4 linked regions of the Homo sapiens genome follow. The protein of the gene in region 1 interacts with the protein of each later gene in a biochemical or structural test. Each region holds a gene or a part of one and is shown on either strand. Other genes may lie near its edges.

The links.
Region 2: the proteins of UBE2Q2 (region 1) and HECTD3 form a complex in vitro, tested with the Homo sapiens proteins (one study listed by BioGRID).
Region 3: the proteins of UBE2Q2 (region 1) and ITCH form a complex in vitro, tested with the Homo sapiens proteins (one study listed by BioGRID).
Region 4: of the proteins of UBE2Q2 (region 1) and UBA1, one has a biochemical effect on the other in vitro, tested with the Homo sapiens proteins (3 studies listed by BioGRID).

The regions. Positions count from the first base shown.
Region 1 is NC_000015.10:75,877,627-75,881,669, reverse strand, and holds part of UBE2Q2 (ubiquitin-conjugating enzyme E2 Q2), read right to left. Parts: intron 3,710-4,043; coding exon 3,649-3,709; intron 2,573-3,648; coding exon 2,482-2,572; intron 1-2,481.
Region 2 is NC_000001.11:45,004,916-45,008,324, forward strand, and holds part of HECTD3 (E3 ubiquitin-protein ligase HECTD3), read right to left. Parts: intron 3,407-3,409; coding exon 3,325-3,406; intron 2,681-3,324; coding exon 2,498-2,680; intron 2,357-2,497; coding exon 2,304-2,356; intron 2,101-2,303; coding exon 2,036-2,100; intron 1,881-2,035; coding exon 1,777-1,880; intron 1,202-1,776; coding exon 1,082-1,201; intron 969-1,081; coding exon 879-968; intron 1-878. UniProt on the Homo sapiens protein: E3 ubiquitin ligases accepts ubiquitin from an E2 ubiquitin-conjugating enzyme in the form of a thioester and then directly transfers the ubiquitin to targeted substrates.
Region 3 is NC_000020.11:34,366,273-34,370,043, forward strand, and holds part of ITCH (E3 ubiquitin-protein ligase Itchy homolog), read left to right. Parts: intron 1-3,121; 5' UTR 3,122-3,198; intron 3,199-3,771. UniProt on the Homo sapiens protein: Acts as an Acts as an E3 ubiquitin-protein ligase which accepts ubiquitin from an E2 ubiquitin-conjugating enzyme in the form of a thioester and then directly transfers the ubiquitin to targeted substrates.
Region 4 is NC_000023.11:47,207,329-47,211,099, reverse strand, and holds part of UBA1 (ubiquitin-like modifier-activating enzyme 1), read right to left. Parts: intron 1,478-3,771; coding exon 1,413-1,477; intron 1,173-1,412; coding exon 977-1,172; intron 259-976; coding exon 184-258; intron 65-183; coding exon 1-64. UniProt on the Homo sapiens protein: Catalyzes the first step in ubiquitin conjugation to mark cellular proteins for degradation through the ubiquitin-proteasome system.

The DNA of each region.
Region 1 (4,043 bases):
ATATACTGTTCTGGCTCTTTCCTGCAAATCTTTCTGAGTCATACCTGCTATCCTCCAAAGTCTGTGAATCCCGATACTAATAACTTGGCAATTCAGTTTAAGGTCCTCTTCATAAGGTCAGTTAGCTCAAGGCAATCACATTCTTCCTAGGCCTCTCAAGAAATACTCCAACCCCAGAAAAGGCCCTTCTTTGTGGTATCAGGAGCCATGGTCCAGAAACACAAATCCAACAGAAATTCAGCCATTTACCTCCCAGATCGTCCCCTCCCTGAAGTTCTACCTAGAGCAGGAAAAAATAATGAAAACACTACCTATAGTCACAAATCCTCCAGTTTCCTGGCCAATATTTCATATTCCCGTAAAGATACCTCTCAAAGAGGAAGTGACAAGGGAGGGGCACACAGGGGGCCACAGGGACGGATAAAAAAAAAAAAGGTTCTATTTCTTAAGTTTGGTGTTAGGCATAAGGACATATAATTCAATTTTTTAAAAAGAAAGATACCTTCCTTTTTTGTGTGTTTTGTTTTTTGTTTTTGGCCTGGGTGCTTTATTCGTTCCCCCATATGAATTAGTAAAAATGTAGCCATTAGCAACTTCAGTCAATATATACCAGACTCATATTTTAGGAAGACAACCCAGTTGACAACCACAACAGTTTCTATAATAACAAAAGTGAGAGATAATACTGACATTTGGGTCACTTCAAGAAAGTTCAATCATAAGATATATCCCCAAGCAAAAACACACACATAAAAAAGCTACGTAAGAAGCTTTTAGAAAATTACTACCTTTTTTGTAAGTACAAAGGAAGTATTGCTTTTTCCATCAAAATATCTCATATATCCACAGATTTTAAACCATTACATCTCATCCAGATCCATATTAAATCACGCCTGTAATCCCAGCACTTTGGAAGGCCAAGGGAAGTGTACCATGAGGTCAGGAGTTCAAAACCAGCCTGGCCAAGATGGTGAAACCCCATCTCTACTAAAAATACAAAAATTATGCGGACATAGTGGCACATGCCTATAATCCCAGCTACTCGGGGGGCTGGGGCAGAGAACTGCTTAAACCCGGGAGGCAGAGGTTGCAGTGAGCCAAGATTGTGCCACCACACGCCAGCCTGGGCCACTGCACTCCAGCCTGGGCAACAGAGCAAGATTCTGTCTCAAAAAAAAAAAAAAATCATTAACATTTTTTCTAGATTCCATTGCTATTCTTTAACCATTATTTTTAGCATCTTTAAAATACTTATTAGGCCAGGTGTGGTGGCTCACACCTATAATCCCAGCACTTTGGGAGGCCGAGGCAGGCAGATCACCTGAGGTTAGGAATTCAAGACCAACCTGGCAAACATGGTGAAACCCCGTCTCTACTAAAAATAAAAAAATTAGCCGGGCATGGTGACATGCACCTGTAATCCCAGCTACTCAGGAGGCTGAGGCAGGAGAATCACTTGAACCTAGGAGGCAGAGGTTGCAGTGAGCCAAAACTGTGCCACTGAACTCCAGCCTGGGCAACAGAGCAAGACTCTGTCTCAAAAAACAAACAAACAAACAAAAAAAAACCTTATTAAATATAACACATAAATTCAGAAAAGTACATAAAATATAGAGATATACCTTAAGAAGCTATTGTAAATTATGTGCTCATGTAACCATCAACCTGGCCCAGAAATATATTCCAGCCAGTATCCAAGAAGCCTGCGCAGATATACCTTTCAGTTCACACCTCCCTACCTCCCACCTAGATGGACTCCTTACCCTAACCTGTATGTAATCACCTCTTTGTTCTTGGACAGTTTTCCTCTTTGGGCAGTTTTACTGCTCACGTATGAATCCATAAATAAGTGTTTCTCAGTTTTCTTTTCATTTTTGCCCCCCTAAGAAGCCTTTTTAGAAGTTTTCTTCCTAGTTTTACCCCCCTGCTCCATGGAATTTTAACACCATAGATAAATCGTATATCTGTTTATGTTCTGTGGCCCTTTGGAGGGCAGCAGACCATTTTAATAGCTAAGATTGTTTTCACTCTAAAGATCAGTTTTCACTACACTGCAGGTGATATTGCCTCCACTAAGAATGCATGCCCTAATCAACATTAGTTTTACCTATTTTTGAACTGTATATAAAGGGAATTGTACAAAATAGGTTTTGGAGTCCAGTCTCTTTTACAACTGTGTTCAAGATCCACCCATCTTGTCCCACATAGCTGTAAACCACTTTATAAACACCACAATTCTCCATTTTATTGGAATGAACACTTGGGTTTTCTATTTGGTGCTATTATAAACGATGCTGCTCTGAACATTCCTGTGTCTCCTGGTACGCCTAAGTACTCACGTCTTAACGGAGAATATGTCTACGAGATTCCTGAACCATAGGGTATGAGTATCTTCTACTTTACCAAATTGTTTTCCAAAGCACTTGTACAAATATACGCACCCCACTGGAAGTATATGGGGTCCTGTAACTATTTTCTTACCTTAAAAGAGAAGTTAAGCAAAATATATTCTATGCCTTCTTTTTCTTTTAAGATCTGAAGATCACTGTGCAAAGGACTATCAGGGTCAACCCTAAGAATTACAAAACAAAAAACAGTTCAAATAAAAAGTTAGAGATTTTTTTTTTTAACTAAACTCAAAAATGAACTAGTATGACAGCTAAAATAGAGCACCTAGGGCAAGTTCCAGAAAGAGAAGGTCTAAAGCTGCTCTGTATCACCAGGAAAAATAGAGGTCACCATAGGTTCCAGCTCCTTGGGAATAAATGTCCAAAAGAGACCATAATACTCTAAATCTAATCTAGTAAAGGAGTTCAGAGTTTGCAGTCACTCTAAAGGAAAATAGTCACATGAATATAATTTTCTCAAGAACTCAAAAAAAGTTTAGGAAAGCATATTAAACTTACATTATTAGCCAAAGGGTTCAAGGAGAAAAGTTTGCCATGGTCAGAACTATGAAAACTTAAATCACTAAAAAAACCTGTATTTGTCTACAACTGTCCTATATATACAGGTCTAATTTGAATCCCACCTCCCCCCAACTTTTTTTTTTTTTTTTTTTTTTTTTTTAAGAGACCGGGTGCCTCATTCTGTTGCCCAGGCTGGAATATAGTGATACGATCGTGACTCACTGCAGCCTTGATGTCTGGAGTGCAAGATCTTCCTGCCTCAGCCTCCCACCACCCCCAGTAGCTGGGACTACAGGTGTACTCCACCATGCCTGGCTAATTTTTTTTTTTTTGTAGAGATGAAGTCTTGCTATGTTGCCCAGGCTGGTCTCAAACTCCTGGGCTCAAGAGATCCTCTCACCTCAGTCTCCCAAAGTGCTGTATATATTTCAAATATAAACTGGTTATCACAGTCTCATGAAGTTATTAAATACACTTTTGTTTTTAAGTTCCCCTGCTCTAACTCCATAAAACACTTTATCCCGCAGCTGGTCCCTCTTTCTGTCCTTCCTCTTTCTCACTTTCTTATTAGACCTCAGCAACAGCTCATTTAAACAATCTAAGAACTATTTCTATAGAAACAAAGTCTAAAGTTCTAAGTAAAAGCCATAGTATAAAGGTATCAAGTTAGAAGGAAAATAACCTCCACTGTGATAGTCTACCATTGCAAAGAGTGGGTGAGCATTAAAAAGCCACTTACTTCTGCAGTTTAACATGCCAGTCATATAAACTGTCATTTATGAGTTCCACTGAATAAATCCCTGTTAAGATATAGAGCATGTTAGCTACTCTTCATTTCATCATATAACTATTACTATGGTATAAATGTATACACTAAATAGCCAACGAAAGCTAGAAATTTTGCTCTTAAAACATGGAACAACTAAGCTATATAGTAAATATTACACTACTGCAGCTGAGTATCTTATGCCCTTAACAGATAATTACAGCCATCAACTGAGAAGATTCTTTAATGAGTTGAAAAACTGCTTACCGTTTAGTCTGACTGAAAAAAAGATTATGCAAAATCATATGTACTTAAGACTTTTCTTCCATGAACACACATTTCTACAAAGATGGAATCCTTCTACGTAT
Region 2 (3,409 bases), on another chromosome or scaffold:
ATGGAGGCAGCAGGGAATGAGGGTGTCAGTACAAGAGCTGTAAAAGCATCAAGACAACACCTAACCAGCCTTGGAGGCCAGAGGAGGCATCCTGTGGAAAATGGTGTCTCAGCTGAGACCCAAATGATGGCTGGGACATAAGGGAAGTTAGGAGAGAGAACATCTTGGAGAAAGCTGGAAAGAGCAAAAGGCCTAAGGAAACTGTGTGGCTGGAGCCTGAATGTGAACCAAGTGGCTGGAGACACAGGGTTCACGTAAGGCCTTTACAGATTCTGCATTCTATCCTAAGCCCAGGGCCGAGCCATCAATGAGTTTAAATAAGGAGAGTGAAATGAATTACTGTGGCTGCATGGAGACCAAACGGGTAAGAACGGAGACAGGGACACCAGCTTTTTAGTAAGTGATTAGCTAAGGAGGAAAGGTGTCCTCAACCAGGCAGGGAGACAGTAGTGAGACAGGAAAAGCAAACAGATTACAGAGGAAGACTTAAGAATATGGTGGCGAGGGAGAAGAAGGGGTGAAGGATGGCCCTGTGGGCTTTGGGATGGGGAGGAGTGGGACATGGTGCCCTTCTGAGGCAGGAGCCCTAGAGGGGAGTAGTCTTCGGAGAAGATAAAGAACACACTGAGCCTGAGATGCCATCTTGGGGCAAACGTCGAGGGTACAGATACATATATGGCCCCAGGCTTAGGAGAGGCTGGGGCTAGAGGTCAGGATTTTAGGGGTCACGAGTCTACAGACAGTAGTTGAAGCCATGGGAGTGGATGGATTGGAGAGGGATCTTGTGTGTGGTGAAAGAACAAGGTACAGAACAGCCTTAGGGAGGACCAACCTTTAGGGGCTGGGCAGAGGAAACACTGGTTCCAGGTCCTACTCACCAGCACAGAGTCCACAGCTGGGAAGTCCTTGCTCCAGCTCACCTCCTCACCAGAAAGCTGCTTCCACACAAAACCAGGCAGGGCCAGGACCTGTGTGACAAACACTCCCCACTGTCTTCTCACCCTGAGCTGCCCAGGTTTGGCTGGCCTTTCCTTCCAAGGGCCAGGGCTGATCGGACGGGGGTGTGGATAAGGCTACTCACCAGGAACTCCTTACCCCGAAGGGCAGCCCCCATCAGCTGTCCGATCCATTCATACTTGGCAAAGTCTCGGCAGGAGGGGTTGGGTACATACATGTCCCGAGCCTCACCAGTGCCATTGCCCTGCCCCAGAGACAGAGCTGTGAGTGTGGCATGAGATACACCCTATTTTCCTGGCCCAAAGACTTCCCTGAACATTTTCCACTGGGAACATTTTCCACTAAATGATCCCTTCAAATGCACAGTGGCTCCTCCTCTCCCTGTCTGCCCAGAGGTTGCCCTGAGCAACTCAGTCCCTCCTCTGCCCTATTTCTATTTTTTTTTTTTTTTGAGACAGAGTCTCACTGTGTCACCCAGGCTGGAGTGCAGTGGCGTGATCTCGGCTCACTGCAACCTCCGTCTCCTGGGTTCAAGCGAGTCGCCTGCTTCAGCCTCCCATGTAGCTGGGACTACAGGCGCGTGCCACCACGCCCGGCTAATTTTTTATTTTTATAGAGATGGGGCTTCACTTCATTGGCCAGGCTGGTCTTGAACTCCTGACCTCGTGATCTGCCCGCCTCGGCTTCCCAAAGTGCTGGGATTACAGGCGTGAGCCACTGTGCCTGCCCCCTTTCTAGCTCAATCTGGCCCCCTCCTCTGCCCCCTTTCTAGCTCAATCTGGCACCTGGGAGGTTTGCAGAGATGGAAACGGAGATTACCTGGTTGGCTGTGCGTACAAAGAAGGGCAGGGGCACGGGGGTATCCGCTGAGCTAGGGCACAGCTCTTCTGACATATCTGCCAGGCTGTCCCGGAAACCACCCCCTGAAATGACAGATGCCCTCAGCTGGGCACTCAAGAGCCCAGCTCCCATAATGGGGTAATGAATAGGTCCCCCATCATCATTAGCTGGTGAAAAGCCTCTACCACTTTGATAGGGCAGCAAGCAGGACCCTTGAGATCCTCCCTCAGGGCCTCACCTTGGTCAATGATGCCTTCTGCAATAAATTTACACTCCCACCACTGGTCATAGCGCATGGGCCACCTGCAAAAAACGTGGGCAGATTTGTCATTATGTGGGGCCAGGTGCAGCACAATTCATCAGCTCAGAGACCACCTGGGAAAAGCAGTCATGGCGAGGGGTGCCTCGAGCAGTTGTGTGTGTGTGTGTGTGTGTGTGTGTGTGTTTGTGTGTGTTTGTGTGCACAAACAGGTGTCCCGAGTAAGTCCCTCACTCTCATGCCATACCTGTAGTCCAGGGGCTTTTCATATTTGTCAGAGGGCTTGAGGCCTTCATATACCTGGAGGCAAGGAGGAAAGGAGTCATAGGAAAGCAAGACCTGGCCCTATACTTGCCCCAAGAACTTGTTCAGGTCCCTCTTGGCCTAGCCCCCTTGGCCCTTGACTGATCCTATCTCAGTCGGACCCTAGGTGGTGCAGACCTGGGTGAAGACTGCATTCTTGCAGGCAGGGTCTCGAGAGGGGCAGGCACGGTGTTCCATGGCAAGACGGCGGTTGATGTATAGGCGTGGCATGAAGCTGGGCTTGCTGCTCTCAGAGTCACGCAGGCACTGAGCCACCAGGCCTGGCCGCTGGCGGGACAGCAGTAGGAACTGCTTCACTTGCTAGTGAGGAGAGGTGGCCAGAGCAGGAATGAGTGGGCAGTCAGCCTCCGTCCAGGCCCTGGAACTTTCCCCTCTGCCTGTATCCAATTCCACCGTTTCAGTTCAAGTCTAGTCCATCCCTGTCTTTGTCTCCAGTCCCCTCCTTAGTTCAGCCACCAGGGAGAGCTTTCTAAAACAAAAAAATCTAATACTGTCATTACCTTCCTTACCTTTCCAACAGCTCCACTACCCTGGGACAAAGTCCTTGCTTCACAGCCTGGCCCACAGGGCCCTCTGCAACCAGGACCTGTCTCCTGCCCACATCCTTCCACCCTCATCCCTCTGTCATACTCACACCTACTGGCACACTTTTCTCAAGACATCTTGAGCTGCTGGTAACTCCCTGTATGTACCTTTCACGCAAACTGCCCTGCCTGTGCTGTCAATAGCCCTTGGGTATTCCACACACTCTGGAATACCAAGGAGGCTGGGGAACAGCCTCCCAAACACTAAATTTGGACCATTTGTTCTGGCTTTCTTCCTATGTTCCCAGACCCAGCAAAGGTCTTGCCCTAGAGTAGATTTTAGGAACTCTGCTAAGGAATGAACAACTACGTGAGCAGGAAGGGGAAATGCCAAGACCAGCACTGGCTGGGTCGGCTCACCTTAATCTCACTGAAGGTGCCCAGTGTGTGGTCCCAGGCAGGTACCAGGTGGTGCAGGACACTATCGAGGATCTTGATGAATCTG
Region 3 (3,771 bases), on another chromosome or scaffold:
CTCACCCAGTCACGCAGGATGGAGTGCAGTGACAGGACCTCCAGAGCTCAAGTGATCTTCCCACCCCAGCCTCCCTGAGTAGCTGGGACAACAGGCATGCATTAGCATGCCTGGCTAATTTTTAAAATTTTTTTGTAGAGAAAGGTTCTCTTTACGTTGCCCAGTCTGGTCTTAACTCCTGTGTTCAAGTGGTCCTCCCACCTTGGCCTCCTAAAGTGTTGGGATTACAGGTGTAAGCTACTGTGCTCTGGCTAAAAATTTTAAGTATAATGCTAAAAATTTGGAATTTTATGTTGGTAGAAATAGATACAGGGCTGGGCTCAGTGCCTCACACCTGTAATCTCAACAGTTTGGGAGGCTGAGGCGGGTGAATCGCTTGAGCTCAGGAGTTTGAGACCAGCCTGGGCAACATGGTGATATCCCGTCTTTACCAAAAGGAAGGAAAAAAAAAAGAAATAGATGCAGATTTTTCGACAGGGAAATGATGTGAGTACATATGTGTTTTAGAAAATTGCTGTGTACTGCAGGACAAAGATAGGTATCAAAAAACAAAAAAAGAAAGATTGCTCTGGTGATGAGCGAAAGGATGAGGGACTAGCTATTGCAGAAGTCTAGTTGAGAAATGACAAAGCCTGACCTTGGAGAGAGGTTGTGGGGATGATCAAAGGATTGGATTTAGCTTTTTACTAGTGCAATATTGTTGCCATATTTCTAGATGAGGATTTTTTTTTAGAGCTAATCTGGGTAAAGGGCTCCTTTTCTGTCAAAAGAACCCATTAGCAAGTCTGAATAATATTGCCAGGTTATATATGTTATGTATAGTATGAGAGTGAATTGTTCATTAGCATCTTTGAGAAATTAGAAAGAACTATGTCAGGTGTAATTTGGAAGAGAACTTGAAGTTTGTTATTGTTACTATTTTTGAGATGGAGTCTTGCTCGGCCATGCAGGCTGGAGTGCAGTGATGTGATCTCGGCTCACTGCAACCTCCACCTCCCGGGTTCAAGCGATTCGTGTGCCTCAGCCTCCCAAGTAGCTGCCTCCCAAGTAGCTGGAATTAGAGGTGCATGCCACCAAGCCTGGCTAATTTAGAACTTGGAGTTTGGACTGAAATTTATGCCTCTAAAAAGTATTGATCTAGGCTTGTTGGGAGTGTTTTTCTCTCAGCCTGTAGAAACTTGCTCATTGAGTTTTAGAGTTGGGAGAAGTTACAGAGATTATCTAGTCCATAATGGCAAATATATTTTGGTTTATTGGCCAGCTCTAATTGGAAGCTGCCAGAAGCACTGTGTTTGGAAGGATTCTGGTTGTAGGTGCTCTGAGAAATTGTATTATGGTTGATCAATGATGTCTCCTGTGGACAGTTACCTAGTAGGTAGTAGACATGTGCCAAATATATGCTATTCTTAGATAAGTCCAATCTCTTAGTTTTCTGTTTTGTTGTTGTTTGTTTGTTTTAAAGGTTAAATAATTTACCTGAAACTAGTTAAGAGTAAGAACTAGAACTAGAACTGGGTTTTGCAACTCTGGGACTGGTATTCTCTGGTTTACAAAGATCAATGTGCACTACTGAAGAGCTTCTGGTATTAGACTAGAAAAAGAAAAGGGAGATTTTTAGCCTATGCGTCTTGACTGTTTAGGCAAGAGTTTAACAAGGAATTTTGGCCTAGAAGTAAGTTTTGTTATATTCATTCTGTCTTAAGAAATTTGTGTTAGGGCCGGGCGCGGTGGCTCATGCCTGTAATCCCAGCATTTTGGGAGGCTGAAGCGGGCAGATCACGAGGTCAGGAGATCGAGATCATCCTGGCCAACGTGGTGAAACCCCCATCTCTACTAAAATACAAAAAATTAGCTGGGTGTGGTGGCATGCACCTGTAGTACCAGCTACTTGGGAGGCTGAGGCAGGAGAACCACTTGAACCTGGGAGGCGGAGGTTGCAGTGAGCTGAGATTGTGCCACTGCACTCCAGCCTGGCAACAAGAATGAGACTCTGTCTCAAAAGAAAAAAAAAAAAAAATTCGTGTTAGTACTGATAGGAAATAGTCATCTGTTTTGTTGTTTTGCCACTTTCTTTCTTGTTGCCTAAGTCTCTGTTTTGGGTTTTGGACATTGGTTTCCTTTATAAGAATTAAGACAAAAGTATGTAAGGTTTTTTTTTTTGTATTTATAGTACTTAGCCAAATTCTGGGCTCATAATAAGCACTCAGTAAAGGCATGTTGACTTTTATGGCTGTAAATGATACTGGCTTTGAGTCAATATAAATTAGTTAGGGGGTTCACAGAATTGAATTGCAGCATTCTCTGGTTGGGAGGTTGGCTTTCAGCTAAAAACGTTAAGTTGGAAACTATCCTCACAACTAGAAGCAGTTAACCAGAAGCTGTTCCTGCCTCTATCCTCCTCCAGTCTAGCAGTGTACTGTCCTTGAAAAACTGCTGCCAGCTCAGCTTTTTTGCTTCTTTTCAGAACTGACTATATCCAGATCCTTGGTGTGCGTTTTCTTTTCCTGTCCCTAGGAGTCTCCAAGTTGCAGGGACTATCATTATGGTGACCCTTATAGGCTGGTGTATTTATATGGCCATCCTCATTTTGCCAGATAGCCGTCATACTCAGATTGGTGTCTTCCCATAATACGTATGAATCATTTTCCCTCAGTTCTTTCTTTTGTCCTGTCTGCTCCATTAAAAATTGTCTATCCCATGAAATTTTTAAAAGAGACTTTGTGCTTTTAGAGTCGCAAGGTCGTTGCAGATCTGATGTGTTTAACTATAGAGGTCAGCTGGGTGTGGTGGCTCACGCCTGTAATCCCAGCACTTTGGGAGGCTGAGGTGGGTGGATCACGAGGTCAGGAGTTCAAGACCAGCCTGACCAATATGGTGAAACCCCATCTCTACTAAAAATACGAAAGTTAGCCAGGCGTGGGGGTGCACGCCCGTAGTGTAGTCCCAGCTACTCAGGAGGCTGAGGCAGAAGAATCGCTTGAACCCAGGAGGCGAAGGTTGGAGTGAGCCAATATCATGCCACTGCACTCTAGCCTGGCGACAGAGCAAGACTCCATCTCAAAAACAAACAAACAAAAAAATATAGAAGTAATGTGTTAATGGACTCTCCTTCCTTTCTCAGGTACCATGCATTTCACGGTGGCCTTGTGGAGACAACGCCTTAACCCAAGGAAGTGACTCAAACTGTGAGAACTTCAGGTATGGTGTCATCCTGTGAGAGAAATTGGGGGCAAGAGTGATGCAGAGGCCAAGCTCTGGTCTTATACCTGCTGTGAGGAGAGAGCAGTGTTGATGCTAGCTGCATCAGTTGGTTGAACATATAGGCAGCTTCACTTGGTTCTGAAACCCAAAGCTGCCTCTGCAGGGATTAGCCTGTGAGCCACACTGTGCTCTTAATTTGGGTTTTCTGACTTTTCTGTTTTTGTAGATCCCTTATACATATGCATACTTTTTCTATTTGTGTTGTTTTATACACGTTTATCTCTGTATACTATCTAGACATGTGCATGTGTAGGATTAAGAGGTGGGTAATGAAAAAGAAGACAACATGGCCAGGTGCAGTGGCTCATGCCTGTAATTCCAGCACTTTGTGGGGCGAAGGTGGGAGGATCACTTGAACCCAAGAGTTTGGGACCAGCCTGGACAACATGGCGAGACCCTGACTCCACACAAAATAAAAAAAAATCAGCTGGTGTGGTGGCGTGTACCTGTAATCCTAGCTGATTGGGAGGGTGACATGGGAGGATCACTTGAGCCAGGAGGTTGAGGCTG
Region 4 (3,771 bases), on another chromosome or scaffold:
CTGTCAGCCCGTAGGTCTGGGCAAACAGGTTGGCAGCAGCCATCACATAGTCCAGATGCAGGGGCTAGGAGAAGGCAGGGCAGGGAAGGGTGAGCACATCAGCCCTCGAGTGGGGAGCCGCCACCTCCTTCCCACCTATTCACCCTCCACCTGACCCCAGAAGACCCTAGAAAGGAGACTTACATTGTTGACATCAAAGGTGAGCGGGTGTGGACAGCGTTTGGGCCCAGACCAGAACGGCGCTCCTGAGCTTGTGAGCTAAGGGATGGAGAGATTTTTGAGAACAGGACCTGAGAGTGAAGGCCTCTCTGACAATCTTCACGCTTCACCTAGGCCCCAGATGTGCCCCCAATTCACTATCTTGGGTTGGGCACTCGATGCGGACTGGAGCCAATCACAAAATACCTCAACTGTAGGGTCCCACAGGTTGAACCAGAGATCTGGCTGAGAGAACAATTACCAATCACTGGGTAGCCATTTTGTGCTAAACAGCCCATCATTTAACAAACTCTCATGGATTACCAGGCATTGTACTAACTTCATTTTAATAAATACCAGTTAATCCTCCCCAAACCCCCCATGAGATAGATCACTATTATTTCTACTTCACAGACGAGGAAACTGAGGTACAGAGAGAAGTTACGTGATTTGCCTAAGTTCAAGTAGAGTTTGGATTTGAACCCATATTGATTCCTGTGCTCTTAACTCCAGAATTTCTCCCCCATAATCCCTACAGCCCTGACTGGGAATCAGGTATGACGCAGCCCACACCACAGTCAAGGGCAATAGCAACCAAGCCTCTTTGCTCAAAGGAACTAGGGTGAGGAAAAAGCAGGTCAGGATCAATCACTCTTCTCAGATCCCCATGCCTCAGGGCACCTGCCACAGCTGGACTCCACAGTGGGAGGACCCACACTGCAGGCTCCCATTTCAGGGAAACACATTCTGCCAAATGGACCCAACAACTGGGCATTACCTGGTCAGGAGGGAAGTTGTGCAGCAGCTGCCGGATGTTGTTCGAGTACTGGGTGTGCCAGTGGTGGCAGGCCCAGGTCACGCAGTCAGCCCAGGTCTGTGGTCGCTGCAGCACCAGGCTGCGCTGCACAGCCTCCAGCACCTCCAAGGGCTGAGTGCCTGCCAGCCGCAGTGTTCGCTCCACAAACTTGGGGTCTCTATCAGGAATCGAAGAGGACAGAGGATAGGATTACATGTCAGCCTCAAGAGTGGGCTCCAGAGCAATCTTACTTTCTCCATGGAAAACTAGTCCCGACCCCAAACAACATGAGGCCCCAACAGCCACTCATTCATGTGAAAAGTGTGCCTGGTGCCAAGTGTTACTGTCATGAGGAAAGCAGCCGGGATGCCTTGGCTGGTGGACAGGGACAGGGCGAGAGGGCACTCGAGTTACTCACGTGAGGTACTGGTTGACATTTTCTGCTGGCTGCTTGAAGAGGCCTTCAAACTCATCCCGAGCCCACTGCAGACAGAGCAAACAGATTACATGTGGCCACAGTTGACAAAATGGGTTTCCGCAGGCATTATTAGAAGGACCATCAGTGAATAAAGCAAGTACAAGGCGCACAGCTACTCTGGAAGTGGGGAAGCCCTCTAGCCTTCCCCATTCCCCCACCTCAATTGAAAAACCAGGCCAGGCACAGTAGCTCACACCTGTAATCCCAGCACTTTGGGAGGCTAAGGCAGATGGATCACCTGAGGTCAAGGGTTCGAGACCAGCCTGACCAACATGGTGAAACCCCATCTCTACTAAAAATACAAAAAGTAGCTGGGCGTGGTGGCAGATGCCTGTAATCCCAGCTACTCAGGAGGCTGAGGCAGGAAATCTCTTGAACCCGGGAGGCGGAGGTTGCAGTGAGCCGAGATCATGCCATTGCACTCCAGCCTGGGTGACAGAGGAAGACTGTCTCAAAAAAAGAAAAATCAATGAAGTTGATTTGGGCAGTGGTTACAATAGTGCTGTGTATGTGGAAAACTGTTTTGTTTTGTTGTTTGAGACAAAGTCTCACACTGTCACCCGAGCTGGAGTGCAGCGATGCAATCACGGCTCACAGCAGCCTTGACCTCCCAGGTTGAAACGATCCTCCCACCTCAGCCTCCCGAATAGCTGGGACAGCAGGCACATGCCACCACACCCGGCTAATTTTTAAGATTTGTTGTAGAGACAGGGTCTTGCTATGTTGCCTAGGCTGGTCTTGAACTCCTGGGCTCAAACAAACCTCACTCCTTGGCCTCCTGAGTGCTGAGATTATAGGTGTCAGCCGCCATGCCCAGCCTAAAAATGTATTAAGATCTGAGTGCCAGGCGAGGTGGCTCACGCCTGTATTCCCAGCACTTTGGAAGGCTGAGGCAGGAGAATCGCTTGAACCTGGGAGGCGGAGGCTGCAGTGAGCCGAGACTGCGCCACTGCACTCCAACCTGGGCAACATGAGCAAAACTCCACCTCAAAAAAAAAAAAAAAAAAATCTGTGTACCTTATTCTAGATATGTTATGCCTCCATAAAAAATAAAAACTTCAATTAGGTATATCTTACCACAGTTTTTTAAAACACAAAAAACTCAGACCAAACCAACAATGATCCCTATCCAGGCCCTGAGGACTTGGCAGAAAACAAGACAGAGGCCGGACACAGAGGCTTACACATGTAATCCCAGCACTTTTGGAGGCTGAGGCAGGTGGATCACTTGAGCCCAGGAGTTTACAACCAGCCTGGTCAACGTAACGGGCACGCGTGCGTGCGCACACACACACACACACACGTACACACACTTACACGTACACACAGACACTTACACACACACACACACACACGTACAGACACTTCCCAGGAGTTGGAAGGTTGCAGTGAGCTATGATTGTGCCAATACACTTCAGCCTGAATGGCAGAATGAGACCTGTCTCAAAAAATAAAATAGCAAACAAGACAGAACTTCTGGCCTCTGAGAATTCCTAGGACAGTTCGCAGTCATTAGCGAGGTGGTTTGGAGTGTACAGATGTTAGAAATTCAGGTTCAGATTCCAGCTATGCCACGTATTACCTAGTTTTGTGACTTCAGGCACACAGGATAACATCTTTACCTCTGTGCCTTGTCTCTAAAACAGGTGTTACAACAGTGATACCTACCTTCATGGGGTTGCTAGGAAGAAATGAGCAAATACATATATATTTAAAGCTTGGTTAAAACAGTGCCAGGCACACAGTAAATGCCAAGTGGTTCACAATAGTCCTGTGAGGTAGATGCTGTCATTCCCATTTTACAGAACAGGAATCTGCGGCACAGAGAGGTTAAGTTCAAGGTTACACATGACCTAGCAAGACTGTGGTTGGTGCACAAATACAAACATACCCACTCTGGAACTGCAGTGTCAGAAGGGAGAAAGTGACAGATGGAACTGTTTTTTTTTTCCCTTCCCTATTTTGTTCCCACCCTCATACTCCTACTATTCTAAATGGTTTGGCCTCAAACACTGCACTAAGAATTATTCTGACAGCACAATGGTAATCCCTAGGTTCTGTTTCTTGGCCCAGGTGGTGGTCACCTGTGTGTTCACTTTGTAAAACTTCAGCTAGATCAAGCTTGTCTAACCTGTGGCCCATATGCAGCCCAGGATGACTTTGAATGCTGCCCAACACAAATTTGTAAATTTTCTTAAGACATTATGAGATTTATGCACGGATCTTTTTTTCTTTTATTTTTTCAGCTCATCAGCTATCGTTAGTATTAGTATATTTTATGTGTGGCCCGAGACAATTC